Linked DNA regions of Homo sapiens: region 1 is reported to be linked to region 2. Evidence: microRNA targets listed by miRTarBase, many of them from high-throughput screens and not tested one by one. Region 2 holds a microRNA gene; the other region holds the end of a gene's coding sequence.
What was found. The annotated mature microRNA hsa-miR-532-3p reads CCUCCCACACCCAAGGCUUGCA and lies in region 2 at 2,947-2,968, opposite strand. An mRNA with a match to its seed (bases 2 to 7 or 8) in the 3' UTR can be bound and repressed. Matches are read on the target gene's strand: a 7mer-m8 pairs with bases 2 to 8, a 7mer-A1 pairs with bases 2 to 7 and ends in A, and an 8mer does both.

Region 1 (7,655 bases), not on the chromosome of region 2:
CAAACGCTACCTGAGGGCATTGTTCGTGCCTAAGATCTGTCACAGTTGGGACAGTGTTTAGCTTAAATATTACTGCATACACTCTAAGACAGACAGCTCAACAAGTAAAGAGATTCACCTTTTAGACGGAGTTGGTCAATTTCTTGAGCAAGCTGCCAGAATCTTAAAACAGGACCATGTGGATGCTACAAAACAATTTTCCAGTAAAACTGCTTGTATAAGCAAGTTCTCAAAACAAAGTATTCATAGTTGTCCTAAAATTTTAGTTCAAGTATCATTCACACAGGGAATCTGAATCATTTATGAAAGATGGGACTTGTATGGAAGTGTACACAGAGGGTTTCTTAACCATTCAAATCAATTTTCTAACTTTCAAATATGGTAAATATCATTACAAAGCTGTAGAAAGAAAATATTTCTGTGAATTAAAGGTATTTAAATCCAGATATTGTCATTTTAAAATCTTGTATCATATAAATAATATACTAAGCAATAAAATGGAATTTTTCAATAAAATAGATTTTTGTATACAAAGTATACTAACTTGCATATGTAATAAGTTAAATGTAGGTTTAAAAATTAACCTATTGACAGCACTGATCATCAATTTTTCTTCCTTCACAGTTACTCATTGCTATTTTGAACCAACTAGGGGTAAGGCTCTATTTTTATGCTATAATAAACTACACATTTACTTAATAGACTAAAGATAACATCTTACTAAATTTTTTTTTGTTGTTTTTTTTTTTAACTTTTGGAACTTCTCTGGGGTAAGATTTTATTTCCATGACTAAATTGATAAAGGTAAGTTATATTCAATGCCACGAAAGGTAAGAGAAACTCTTTGTAACTATAAAAATATGAGAGTCAACCTCAACTGATCTACCAAACTAGAACTCATAAGTTATAAACTCATTTCCTCCAAAATCTTTACATCAAAATTTTTGCCAGTCTAAAAAGGTATTTTTTAATAATGTCCTTGATATTTCACAAAATTTAAATTTACAGGCATATATGCAATATGAAATTTCAAACAACAAAGTTTGCTTCAGGCTTTTTTTTTTTTTTTTTTGAGGAGTCTTGCTCTGTCACCCAGGCTGGAGTGCAGTGGCGTGATCTCGGCTCACTGCAACCTCTGCCCCCCCAGGCTCAAGCGATTCTCCTGCCTCAGCCTTCCTAGTAGCTGGTATTACAAGCATGTGCCACCACACCTGGCTAATTTTTACATTTTTAGTAGAGACGGGGTTTCACCACATTAGCCAGGCTGGTCTCAAACTCCTGACCTCAAGAGATCCACCCGCTTCAGCCTCCCTAAGTGCTGGGATTACAGGCGTGAGCCACTGTGCCCAGGCTTTCAGGCTTATTTTTGTCTTATAGGCAATTCATAGTAAATAATGAGAAAAGCCTACTGTAAAACTGCCACACCTAGAAATGGACTGATCTCAAGGCAAGGTAACACATCTTAACAAAAAGCATTAACTTGCTGGATACAAAGGCTACAAACTTTGACTTCTACTTTGACTTTCACTGAAGTTTGCTTTCATGTAAAATACATACCAAAAAAAAGAAAGAAAGAAAGAAAGAAAGAAAGAAAAACGTGGAGACCAAAAAGGTATATATCCCTTTTGTTGTTCTAATATTTTTAAGAAACAGGATCTTGCTATGTTGTCCTGGCTGGACTACAGAGGCTATTCACGGGCCCAATCATAGTGTATGTACTACAGCCTTGGAGAAAGAAACTGGATTTCCACCCAACTGCTTCTCTCCTAACAAGTTACATTGCCCTGAAGTGCTTATTTAGTACCTTTTACCATTTCAAATACTTAGACTATCTGAGGCCAAGTGGGAGAGATTAAGCTCTATGCTGTAAACAGTTAAGGATTCAATTTATCAGCATTTAACAGTTCCACATTATTTTCCACCTCCAACATACATGATTATACCAATATTAACACATCAGCAATAAAATAACCATAAAATGGGAGGCATGGGTGAAGAAGGAATTGTGGTGAAAATATCTTCATATAAATTATAACTATAATCTGTATTATCTATTTTGACAGAAATAATTCTCCCACTACTATGCCAGAAGTTACGTATGGTTAGTAAAATCTCCAAATTCTTTCATGCATTTATATCCTTTTCAATATTTTTATCATGAGTTTAATTGCCTCTGATTGTGTCCACAACGGTAAATTAATAATATGATGAAAATAGGTGTAAACAAGACCAATTAATTACAAATGCTTTCTTCAAAGGATGTATTTTAAAGTCAGTTTATTAAAACTCCAGAAATATTTTAGAAAATAACCACCACCAGAAGTCCTAAGCATAAGAAAACATACTGTTAAATAAGAATAGCCTCTCGAAGTGCTCAGAATTTTCAAGTTCCCCCTTTAGCCACCAAATATTTAAAGTAGTTATGATCCTAAGGAAACTTTGCATATCCTTCTATTTGAGTTTGAAATGCTTTCAAAAGCTCAAGAACACCTGCTGACAAAACAAACACTGACTGTGGCCCTTTATCCTTAGGTTATCATCAAATAAACTATCTTTGGGCCAAAATTACACAAACAACTTCAACAATGCTAGCCAAATCAGGTGTGGCCCTTAAATTTCAACTCACAAATCATAACTGCAATACTATGAATAACATGAGTACTACTTATGTTACACATAATCTTCCAAGCTGCATACTTAAATAATGTATCATAAAAGACTCTTAACCTTAGTAGGGAATACAACAGACAGAATAGCTTTGCAACCCAGTCAGACCATGATTCAAATCCCAACTCTACTAGCAAATAAAACTGCGGGCAACCTTTCTAAATATCAATGTATTCATTTGTGAAATGGGAATACTACTACCTAACAGGATGTGGATAGAATTAAGAAATATAATAGATACTCAGTAAATGGCAAATATTATTACTTATTTTACTAAATGTCTCTAAAATAAAAAACATTCATTTTACATAAGACATAAGGAAAATAAGTATGAAGGGAATATTACCTAGTGATATAGCAGATAGATCTTCCTCTAGGAATATCTGAAACTAACATTTTGTTTTTTCCCTATTATAGATGGTGCTGGATATTTACAGTTATCAGAAGAGTATCTACTTCTATCTTAACTATAGTTGATGGTAGTTTTATAATTTTGCATACTTTGTGCATGTTCCAGTGAAAACTCCAAAAAACCATAAAGAATGTATCTAGACCATGGGCTTTAGTCATACTTTAAATAAACCTTTAATATAACCAAATGTCTTTATTAATGGCAGTTCAAATGTATCAAAACTATTAAACAGGCTGGGCATGGTGGCTCACACCTGTAATCCCAACACTTTGGGAGGCTGGGGTGGGAGGATCTCTTGAGCCCAGGAGTCCAAGACCAGCCTGGGCAACATAGGGAAATTCCAGTCTCCACAAAAAAAAAATAAAAAAATTAGCTGGGTGTGGTGGTGCACACATGTGGTCCCAACTAATTAGGAGGCTGAGGTGGGAGGATTGCTTGAGCCCAGGAGGTTGAGGCTGCAGTGAGCCATAAGAGCACCATTGCACTCCAGTGGTGCTATCACGGGCAACAGAATGAGACCCTGTCTCAAAATACTATGACACACAAGTAAAGGCCAAAATTTTCAGAAAATTGCTCAAACTGTTAAAAGAGCTTTTGTAAACAAGTAGCTTCAATTTTGGAGAACTCCATTCAGTGATAGGAAGAAGCAATTTCTTCCTGCCAAATGGTGAAAGTAGAAGCCAACTCTTCCATGCAGGAAGGCCATCTAACCTCTTGAGCAGGTCATCCTCATCAAGTATCAATCCCTTATTACTCACCGTAGGGACCAGGATTTTATGGATTTTTAGAAGTTAATACATACATAAGCCCTATTTATAACTACTCCAGAAGGGTTCAAGGTATCCTGAAATCAAACATTCTAATGCTTTTCAGGAAAATCTACAGTCGTAACTAAGGGGAAAAAAGCCTCCTGTCAGTTCAATTCAGGTTTACCACCAAAATTTCTGACATCAAATAAACGAAACAAAAAACAGAACAACACTTTGTTTTACCTTAACCGTAATTCTGCTCTCTAGCTACAGAAGCCTAATCTTTTTCAAACATCTGAAGGAAAGAAAACAATAATGTCTGTCTCCCCTAAAGCTTTTCCTGAGATGCTCCAGCTATAGCCCAACCCTACTTAGGTGGATAGGAGTTCCTATCACAGGGCTTTCCAACAGAGATCCTTAGCCAGAATGAGATAAACATGTCCACTAAGACAAGGCAGTACTACTTTTCTTTCCTTTTCCTTGCTTCCAAAAACCCCCAAAGCACCAACCCCCTCCTTTCCTCTGGGATTTATAACATTAACCATGCTTTTCTCAAAAATCTATTTCAATCTTTAACATTTCTTTCCTAACAAAAAAACACTAACTCACAGAGACCTCCACCTCTGTTCCTGTTTTTATAGAACCAAAATAATTACTTAATAATTATATATTGATCACATATTAAGATATTTTGGATATAATGGATTAAATAATTACAAACCATTTTACTTGTTTCTTTTTATTTTTAATGTGACTACCAAGAAGTTTAAAATTCACACATGGCTAACATTTTCCTTTGTGTTTATTTTGTTGTTAAGTACAGGGGTACATGTGCAGGTTTGTTACATAGGTAAACTTGTGTCATGAGGGTTTGTTGTACAGATAATTTCATCACCAAGGTATTAAGCCTAGTACTCATTAGTTATTTTTCCTGATCCTCTCCCTCCTCCCACCCTCCAATAGACCCCAGAATGTGTTGTTCCCATGTCCATGTGTTCTCACCATTTAGCTCTCACTTATAAGAGAACATGCAGTGTTTGGTTTTCTGTTCTTGCATTAGTTTGCTAAGGATAATGGCCTCCAGCTCCACCCATGTCTTTTCAGAGGACATGATCTTATTCTTTTTTACGGCTGCATAGTATTCCATGGTGTACATATACCACATTGTCTTTATCCAGTCTATCACTGATGAACATTTAGGTTGATTTCATGTCTTCGCTATTGTGAATAGTGCAGCAATGAACATACACGTGAGTATGTGTTTATAATAGAACAATTTATATTCCTTCGGGTATATACCTAGTAATGGGATTACTGGGTCAAATATCTTTAAATATTTGAGGACTCTCTACACTCTCTTCCACAATGGTTGGACCAATTTACACTCCCACTAACAGCGTATAAGCATTCCTTTTTCTCTACAACCTCACTAGCATCTGTAATTTTTTGTCCTGATTTCAATTCTTTTCTGAACATCCATTTTTAACTAATTTACAACATATAGTAGTTTCACTAGAGTGAAATGAACATACTGATTTAAATTACTAACTTCCTGGACTTTTTTTAATTCAGAATTTTTGAAAATGAGAGTATCAGCTCTTGTTCACTGATTTTGATCTCTATTGACTAGTGGCTGAAATTTCCTCTTAAAACTAATGCTTCTAAAGTCAAGAAAACATAGTTTCCATTTTCAAAATTAGCTTCAACAAGATCATGTGAAGCAAAATGTGAAGGAAATAATTTAAAGAAAAATCAGATGAAACATTAAACTATACATCCAGTGGCGGTACTCTGCCTAAAGGAGTTTGATGTGGCAGGAACATCCTTCAGGCCTCAGAAGATGGGGAGCGGGAGGGAAGGCATTGACAAACAAGAACTAGATGAAACAGAAGTTATAGCTGATCAAGAATTTATCTTTATTCTGATTATGATTCTTCAAAGAGCATTAGTTGTTTAAATTTAATTTAAGCCATGCTTAAATCGAATACATACAAAATATGATTACTTATATTCCTTTTGACCAAAGAGCTGAAAATTTTGTGTTCCAGTTCATCTTACTCATGTTATTCTGATGCGAAACACTCTAAATGCAAATTGTTTTGAAAGTAAATAGGCCAAGTGGCCTACCCTGCCCTTTTTATAGTATAAATTCTGTGATACTGCCTTCTTTTCAGTATATGCTCCTCTGTGGGCCTTTGGCTTACACGGAGACCATCAGCTACAACGCATGGCAGTCAGCTTCAGAGTCCTCGCTCCAGTGTGCATCTCGTTTCTCAGCCACAAGTTTGATGAATTGAGAGTGACTGGCATAAAGCTTCAGTTTATCATTGATGTCCACCCATTTCACTTTTCCAGCATCATCTCCAGCTTCTAGCATAAGATTATCCATTATCTCACCTGGTTGCCAAAGAAAAACCATCACCAAGAAAAACTCATTTCTGTTTTAGCATATCTATGTCGTCAAGTATTCTTATTTAAAATAATCTTATATCATCATTGTACTAGCCGGCCAAGTGAATTAAAAACTAGACCATTCCATCCCTGGTCAGCAGAATGAATAAAAGAAAAAAAACTAGAGTATTCCAAAATGTCCAAATTTTAACCAAGTCCCTAAATTTTAGATAAACACAAAGAGTTTTCTCTAAAAAGATTATCCTTAAAAACGAGATTATATTACATGAATATGAAACCTTACATCAAAATCAGTCCAAGAGGGATGAGAGATTTAAATGTAAAAAAATAAACAAAGCTGAGGCGGGTAGATCACCTGAGGTCAGGAGTTCGAGACCAGCCTGGCCAACATGGTGAAACCCCATCTCTACTAAAAATACAAAAATTAGCCAGGAGTGGTGGCACATGCCTGCAGTCCCAGCTTACTTGGGAGGCTGAGGCAAGAGAATTGTCTGAATCCATGAGGTGGAGGTTGCAGTGAGCCAAGATCACACCACTGCACTCCAGCCTGGCAACAGGGTGAGACTCCACCTCAAAAAAAAAAAAAAAAAATTTAAATTATCAAAAAAATAAAAAATAAGTGCTCCCAATCACTGCTGGGAATATAAATGGAATATTTCTGTAGGAAATTTGGCAATGTTTATCAAGAGCTTTTAAAAAGTAAGTTTTCTTTGACAAGCACTCATTCTGTAAATATCAGAGTGCATCTTGTGTGCCAGACTGTACTAGGCACTGAAGATACAATAAGCAATCCAGTAATTCCTCTTTGAAGAATTTATTCTGATGAAATAGAGACAAGCCTATTAAAGTATTCAAGGCAACATTACTTAAATATTTTATTTTATTTTATTTATTTTTAGATGGAGTCTCGCTGTTGTTGACCAGGCTGAAGTGCAGTGGCACAATCACGGCTCACTGCAACCTCCGCGTCCTGAGTACAAGCGATTCTCCTGCCTCAGCCCCCCGAGTACCTGGGATTACAGGCATCTGCCACCACGCCCAGCTAATTTTTTTGTATTCTTAGTAGAGACCACACTGCCATACCAAAAACTGGAGAGACAGGCAAATACAGAGAATCACAACTGACCAGGGAGAGAAGCCTACCGCTGGAGTCAGCACCTGGTAGGAACACTTAAAGGGTAACTAACTGCTGAAAGCTGACCTTTGGACTAGCTTGAAAGATAAAATCTCCTAGGGGGTCAGCCATACCAGTATGAAGAGGGGGCCTACATTTTAGTGAGCTTTACCTCCAAGAAAGCCACCAGGTGAAGACTGGAGAAAAATCCTCTCTCCTTTCTAACATGGAGAGGGGAAAGGTAACCAATTTCAAATACACCCAGATCACTCTGCCCTCAAGGAAAACTATTTTACCAAGC
Region 2 (8,328 bases):
CCTTCACCACGATCACCCTGATGTAGGCCTCCATCCATCTCTCAACTGAATTATTTCAATGGCCTCCTAACTGGTCTCCCAGTTTCTGCACTTTCTCCTCCTATTTGCCATACAACAGTCAGAACCATACTTGTGAAGCAAAGACACAGAAAACTGTAATCCTGATTTTGAATCAGAAGTATAATGGAATCATGATGTATTTATCTAGAAACAAGAAAACACAAAAACAAAACATTTTTCTGTTCTGATCATTGTAGAAGCCTAAATACAATGACCAATCCAGAGGCAAATATGGTCTTTAAATATCATGTCTGATTAAAAGAAACCAGGGCTTCTTGAAGACATGGCAGATTCCAGGCCTGGGGAAGGTATCTGCGATGAGCTTTGTACATTTTTTTCATCTCTGAAAGCGGAGAAGCTATCAGATAACTACGGAGGCATGTCAAAAGGACTGAGGAACCAATTTGAAGAAGCTCCTACTGGCTAAAGATGGGGCACTGGAGCTTCACTGAAGGCAAGAACTGCAATGGATTAAAAGTCCAAATATATTTAAATCTATGAGTTTATTATAATAGTTTTTTTAAAAAATCCTCTTTAGAGTAAGCTAGTGAACCAACTCATTATTCTGAGTACTGATAAATAAAGAGAACCAAACATTTATCCTATCTTGCCTATAAAGACGGCAACACTGGGTGATCAAATAGCAGATGAAGGGAAGTTTTTCTTTATAGAAGTATTCCAGCTAATAAATCAAGAGAATAATGGGATTAGAATATCATCATTTTGCAACCCCTAATGAAATAACGGCTCTAAGAATTGAGCATCGGTGGCAACTAACATCACAGAAAGATGATCATCAGTTATTTTGTGCCTCTTAATGGAAGTAGTTCTGCTCCCCCTTCCTCAAAATTAAGCCTGAATTTGATCAGGCTTCCAGATGCAACTATCAGTTTACAGGAAATACAAACAAGGAGAAGGAACATGTAAACTACATCACAGGGATGTGATCACAAAAATCCAGACTATGCAAAACTGTATAGGATGAATGGCCCACTTTCTTCCAACAAATAAATTATAAGGAAAGAAAAAATATAGATGGAAGGGAAAGATATAATTCAAAGGGACTTAAGATACATATCAACCAAATGCAATGCATGGACCTTATCTGGATCCTAATTTATGATATTTCTGAGACAAGTGGAAATGGGAACAACAGATATGTGATGATATTAAAAAATTGTTGGCAATTTTTTTTCTTTTTGAGATGAAGCCTCGCTCTTGTCACCCAGGCTGGAGCGCAGTGGCACGATCTTGGCTCACTGCAACCTCCGCCTCCCGGGTTCAAGCGATTCTCCTGCCTCAGCCTCCCGAGTAGCTGGGATTACAGGCACCTGCCACCAGGCCTGACTAATTTTTGTATTTTTAGTAGAGACGGGGTTTCACCATGTTGGCCAGGCTGGTCTTGAATTCCTAACCTCAGGTGATCTGCCTACCTTAGCCTCCCACAAAGTGCTGAGATTACAGGCATGAGCCCCTGTGCCTGGATGGTAATTATTTTTAAGTGTGATAATGGTATGATTTTTTTTTTAAAAGCGGCCTTAGATTTTAGAGATACATAGTAATTATCAGCTTTCCCTTTTTCCATTGTAACTTACTACTTCCCAGCCCTATGCTTCTGCCACAATGGCTCTTTGTTGTTCCTAGAACACAGTAGGCCTTTCCTGACTACCCTATTTGATATCGAAACTTCTCCACCACCATCTATGCTGTAACTACCCCCACCCACTCCTTGTCCCCTTTTCCTGCCTTATTATTCTCCAGAGCACTTATCAACAATTGGCACACTATCTATTACTTACTTATTTTGTTCACTACCTGCCTCCCCTCACTAGGGCAGGGATTCTTGTCTTTTGGTCACTGGTGTATCCCTGGTGCATAGGGGAGTACCCAACACACAGTAGCTGCTCGATAAATATTTGCTGAATGAATGAGTGGCTCACCAAATGAATCGGCTGCAAATCCTGGGTCTGGGGAGATAACAGAGAAAACTCACAATCTGACTCATATCTACATGAGTGTCTAAGAAGACAGATCTTCACACACCCTCTTGAGCAAACAAGTGTGCATATGGAAAGGCATGGCACAGTGAGTGGATTCTACTTTCTGAACCCAAAATGTGTGTGCATATTACATCTTTGCATATGGTTATGATATAGACACAATTTTCCTCACAAACTGGGTTTGTGAGAATTAGCTAGAAGACTCCCTTTTCATCATGCCCCATGTACAGGAGTCCTGAGAAGGTTCTCTCTCCTCCTCTAGGTGCCGCTAAGACAGAACCAGGTCAAAAGACCCCCCTTCCTTCTCTAGGCTGTGCCTATCCCTGAGTATGAGGGGCTGCACCATGTGCAAGAGAAAGCTAAGAGAAGTCTCCCTCTCCTGCAGGATCCATGTAAGACTGAGATGGGAGAAAGGACATGGCTGAGAGTCATTCTCCTTCCCACCACATGGGTGTGTGTTTTTCTTTTGGTGAAGGAGTGCGTATGTGTATATACACATGCACAAGAGAGCAAGGAAAGCTGAGGCTCGCCATCCTGCAAACCCTGCATGTGGGAGGGGTTTTCAGAAAGCTCACCCTCCACCATGCAAGGGATGTGAGAGAGGGAGCAGGGAAGGGCTTGCTCTCTTGGCACGACATATGGGTATGCTCTAGGAGGCAAGAGGCACTGGCCTGGGGGGTGCAAGTGGGCAGCAAGATAGCCACAGGAGTGCTGATGGGTAAACTAGGAGCAGTGGCCATGGAAGCAGGACAGTCATCCAGATGGGATGGCTGCTAACAGTGTACCCCACATACAGAGCACGTAAGAGAGGGTCTACCTCCCTTTGGTGTACCTGTCCATGTGCTCATGCCTATGCACTGGAGAGGGAAGAGAAGGCTCGCTCTTCTGCAAGCCTTGGGTGTGGGAGGGTAATTAAGATGCCAACGGTCCTACACTCAAGGCATGGAGGAGAGAAAGCAAGTCGGGAGGTCTGCTCTCCTGTATACTGTGTGCATGCGTATCCCAGATGCCTTGGACTTCTATGACTGTGCCCCAGACATGCTGTAATGAGAAGGTGTGCTTGTGTACATTCACATATGTACCTTCAGAAATGTTCACTATCTACAACATATTTGTTTTCCTTCCTTCTTTCTTTTCCTTTATTTTTATTCCTAACACCAGTATAGTATTTACATTTGCAGAGCACTGTTTTAAGTGCTTTTCACACATAGCTCATTTATTCTCATAAAATATCCATGAGGTGATCATTATCCCTATTTTACAGATGAAATAACACACATACGAGAACAGATGGTAAGAAAGCTTAGAATCTGGCATGCAGGTCATTAGAAAGAGGACTCAAAAAAGGAGGCTCAAGCTCTCAGCCACCAACCACTTTGTGTCCACACACACACCACACACACACACACACACACACACACACACACACAGAGAGAGAGAGAGAGAGACAGAGACAGAGACAGAGACAGAGAGACAGACAGACAGACAGACGCAAGAGAACTTGCACTTGTCAGCCCAGGGAAAAGCTGGATTAGTGTGGAAATAATAGAGGAAGTGAGAAGTATGAGAAGTGGCTGTGTGGTCAGATTAGACATGTATTTTGAAAGTAGAGCCAACAAGATTTGACAGCAGTTTGTATTTGGAGAATGGAGGGGAAAAAGTGTCAAAGATGAATCCAAAACCTTTAGCTTATTAAAATTCTCCATATCCTTGGCATATGCAATTGGGAAATGCTGTTTGCTGAGTTGGAGAACACAGAGGGAGGAGTAGGGCTTTTTGAGAGGGGGAGGAAAACCAGGACCTCAGCTTTGGATGTGTTAAAGTTTTGAGATACTTATTAGACATTCGGGGCAGATGTCCAGTACATAGTTGGACATAGGCATCTGGAATTCAGGAGAGAAGTCCAGGCTGGAAATACAAACACAGAAATCATCCACATAAAATGGTACTTAGAGTTGCAAGACAAGATGAGAACAGCTGAGGACTAATGAGAAGTTAAAAAAAAAAAAAGAAGTCTGAAGACTAAGCCCTATATCTCTTTAATACTTAGAATTCAGGAAGAGGAGGAGAAACCATCAAGAGACTGAGAAAGAGAGGCTTGTGAGGTAAGAAGACAACCTCATGAGTGTGGAATCCTGGAAAGCAGGTAGAGTCTCAAGGCAGAGGGAGTGATCAACTGTGTGTTGATCTGTCAAGTAAGATGACAACATTGCCCAGTAAATTGGGAAATGTGAAGGACACTGGGGACCTTGACCAGGGTCATTTAAGTGCTGCAGGTTACAGTTTTACATGGAGGGTTTTCAAGAGTAAATGGGACTAACATTTAAGTCTTTAATCCATCTTGAATTAATTTTTGTATAAGGTGTAAGGAAGGGATCCAAGGACAGAAAACCAAACACCACATGTTCTCACTCATAGGTGGGAATTGAACAATGAGAACACTTGGACACAGGAAGGGGAACATCACACATCGGGGCCTGTCATGGGGTGGGGGGAGGGGGGAGGGATAGCATTAGGAGATATACCTAATGTAAATGACAAGTTAACGGGTGCAGCACACCAACATGGCACATGTATGCATATGTAACAAACCTGCATGTTGTGCACATGTACCCTAGAACTTAAAGTATACATTTAAAAAAAAGAGTAAATGGGAGAAATAGAAGTAGAGATGGAGTACAATCAGCTCCTTCAAAAAAATTTTTTTTTTTTCTGTAAAGAGGAACAGAGAAATGAGTAGAAACTGGAGGAGCTTTTTGGGTAGAGAAGGTAGTGCTTTTTAATTTTTAAAATTATTTTTAGACAGGATATGTGGCAGCACATCTAGATATTGGTACAAACACTCCAGTATACAAAGAACAGTTGATGATGCAGTAAGGAGAGGGGGATCAATTGCAGGAGCACTGTCACTGAATAGGTGACAGGGGTTGAAATCTAGTATACAAGTGGAGGAACTGGTCCTGGCTACATGTGCCAGTAATTCATCTACCATAATGGGGAGGAGCTGACACTTAGGGACATGTGCAGGTAATGGAGGAGAGGTCAGAGGAACTTCAGAGGGTCCCTTCTGATGGCTTCCATTTTCTCAAGGAAGAAGAAAGCAAAGTCAGCAGCTGAGAGTGAGGAGGAAGGAAGGGAGGTGACACTGCAGATTTGAGGAAAGGAAAGAATTATGAAACAGTCATCCAAGGCAGTACTTCCCAAACATTTTCAAATAATGGGACCAAGCAGCTTAGGTGTGAGTTTTCTTCTATGGAGAATCAGTTGCTCCAGGCAAAGCATATGGATTAAGGAAGTTTATTACATGTTAATCCCAATACATGCGTCGCCTCCTTCAGTGCTTATTACAAACCTATATGGTTGGCACAATTAGTTATCTCATTTTCATGTTGTGGAAATTGAGACACAAGATAAGTCACTTGTCTAGGATCACAAAGCTCATTACAGATCACGCCAGGATTCTACCACAGGTAATCTGACTACCAAGACAGTGGGCCTAACCACTGAACCCTAAAGCTGTGTGTACCCACATGTGTATGAGAACTGAAAATGATAAGGACCCACTTTCTGGCACATCCTTGGCACACACATGTGAGATGAGGGAGGAAAAGGAAGAGAGAAAGAGCAAGGATGGAGAATAAGGAGGCTCAAGCTCCTATCATAAATGTGTGTGGGGGCATGCACAGAAAAGGGGTAATAAGGTGGCTGACACAGTGGTTCACACGCCACTGTGGCCCAGCCAGTGTGTGCATTGGGAGGTTGTAATAACCTCCCAATTGGGAGGTCAGTTTTATTTTAGGTTAAGCCATGCGTGGGGTAGGAGAGTGGCAGCAATAGAAGGCTCACAGTCCTGCGATGCTGGATGCAATGGGGCAACTCAGGTGTCTCCCTTACATGCATATCATGAGTGTATGCACATGAGAGAAAGAAAGAGAAAAGCAGGATTAGAGAGAGAGGCTGCAAGCAGGAGGCGGATGGGGAAACCCACAGTCCAACAGGTTTGGGGAAGCATATTTAAAATAAAAAGCTCACTGTAGTTCTGTGTGGTCAAGGTGGGATGGGATAGCTTGAGAGGCTTGCACCCCTGCATGGGGCAGGAGAGCTGGGGGAGTGGAGAGCAGAGACAGGGCAGATATAGGAAGAATGCTCACTGATGAATCCTAGCAAATTTTTAAAATATCATAAATTTCATACTATTTTTACAATGTAAATAACTGTCATTCAAACAATGCTCCACAACCTTTAAAACAAGTAAAAAAAGGGGCTTTTAATGTACAGACTAAGAAAGCAAATGTATTCGTTGTAGCACAATTCTCATATTCTATTCCGCAGGTATCAGCTGCTTGACAACACCAACTATAGTGAAAAGAGCCAAATATGTGTTCACACTGACACTTTTTCTTTAGTCTTTAAACTTGCTGGCCAACAGAGTATAGCTTAGAAACTGCCCACCATCCTTAATGGATCAACTGCCATTTCTGAACTTATTTTTCCCCTCAGCTAAAAGGGGCAGATTATTTTTTTTATTCCTCAACACATCTACCATACAAAGCAAACACTAACAGGCCGAAGGATTCATCTCCCTCGTGGTGTACATGTGTGTACACATGTGAAGGCACATGTGCCTGTGCCAGAGCCAGTTTTTTTAGGCCCACTATCCTTCAAATACTTCAACTCAGCAAGTTAAAAAAAAAAAAAAAAAGCAAAGTCCACTCTCCAATAATGCATGCTTGTGGGAAGAGCACTAAGAAGGCATGCTGGGTTTAAGAGGCAGGGCACAGCTCAGAAAGCTTGCACATCTGTAAACCTCATGTGTGGGAGGGAACTGAGACAGCTCACACCCCAATGTGTGAGGCATGTGAGACAAACAGGTAAGGAGTCACCTCCTCTCTCCCTCACAGACAGAGGATGTACACAGACGTAGGTCTAAGGAGGCGTGGGGTGATCAGGAGCCTCATCATCTTGTACTCCTGTGTGCATCATCTGTGTCGGGGGTGGGGAGGGTGTCCCATAATAATGCTCACTCTTGCCAACAAGGCCTGTAAGAAGGGCACTAAACAATCTCGACTCTGGATGCTGGGTGAAAAAAAGCAAGGGGGCACATAGCCTATGGCGGGGGGGTGGCACTAGAAAATTCACTCTCCTGTAAGTTGTGTATATAAGAGTGGAATTAAAAAACACACACACTACCATTCAAGGCAAATGGGAGGGTGAACACATCAGATGTCTCAGACTGTGTGTGTGTGTGTAGAAGACTCAAGCCAGCAAACCCTTTGCAGTGTCATGCATGGGTGAAGGAGAGAAATAACAAGAAGGCAAGATGGCTTGCTCTCCCACAGACTCCACAAATAGGAATGGGATCAGGAAAGCTCTCTCTCCTACAGTCAAGACATATAGACGAGTGGTGGAGTCAGCAGGTTCTTCTTTCTGGCACTCTGAGTGTGAGAGGGAAGGAGGGAGGGAGGGAAGTAGAGAAGGCACATTAAGGTTCATTTGCCTGCAAACTTAAAATGTGGGAGGGGGATTGTGAAAATCCACACTCTGACACTTTGGGCCCGAAACGTACCAAGCAGGTCAGAAAGCAGGCGTGCTGCAGGCCTGAGGTAGAAGGCTTGTTTATCTGCACATTTTGTGTGGATCTGCTCAAAAGGAGGCTCACTTTGCAGCACTACGTCTATGTGGGTGCCCACAAAATGGCAGGAGCAGAGGGGGTGGTGAGAGAGTAAGTGAGAAGGGTCCAGTGACCGTACCCCATTAAGTATATATTCCTGTGCATGTATGAGCAGGAATATGCAAACAGGAAATGGGGCTCAGGCTGCCATACACCTTCTACACCTGTGTCGTTTGAGCAGTACAGTATAGTCTCAGCTTTGGAATGCCTGGTTCTGCCATTAACAGCTGTGCCTAATCTCCCTATGCCTGCATTTCATCATCTGTAAAATGGGGAGGGCGGGAGTCCCTGATTCTTAGGGTTGTTGCAAGGATTAACCAGGACACTATGACCAGTGCTGAGCTCAGTGTCTGGACACTGCCAGTGCCAAATGTTAACTATCTTTGTTAGCATCAGCAACAGGAAAATGGGCCTCTCTAGGGAAATATCACTCAAAGATCCTCATGAATGCCCCTGACCCCAACTGTTTAGCTTCTCCCTTGTCTGAGGCCAGAAAGGAACTGCTAAAGAGTAGTGAGTTCCAGACTTTATGTTCAACAACTTGGGGCTAAGGGTAAAAGAAAGAGAGAACTAGGGAGATAGACACAGATGGGATCT

Region 1: the mRNA of NUDT9 is a reported target of hsa-miR-532-3p. Seed matches in the 3' UTR shown: 7mer-m8 at 5,213-5,219 and 7mer-m8 at 4,775-4,781.

Annotation. Positions count from the first base shown.
Region 1 is chr4:87,456,413-87,464,067 of GRCh38, reverse strand. It overlaps NUDT9 (nudix hydrolase 9), which reads right to left. Exons shown (of 8, transcript NM_024047.5): 8 at 4,613-6,225. The coding sequence ends at 6,047. It overlaps SCPPPQ1 (secretory calcium-binding phosphoprotein proline-glutamine rich 1), which reads left to right. Exons shown (of 10, transcript NM_001405228.1): 7 at 625-654; 8 at 776-804; 9 at 2,064-2,101; 10 at 3,085-3,266. The coding sequence ends at 790. Among named protein-coding and RNA genes, the nearest start is that of SCPPPQ1, 11 kb to the left of the region's middle.
Region 2 is chrX:49,997,844-50,006,171 of GRCh38, reverse strand. It overlaps MIR532 (microRNA 532), which reads right to left and starts at 3,024; the gene lies at 2,934-3,024. All of the region lies in intron 3 of CLCN5 (chloride voltage-gated channel 5), which reads right to left. MIR188 (microRNA 188) reads right to left here and starts at 2,669; the gene lies at 2,584-2,669.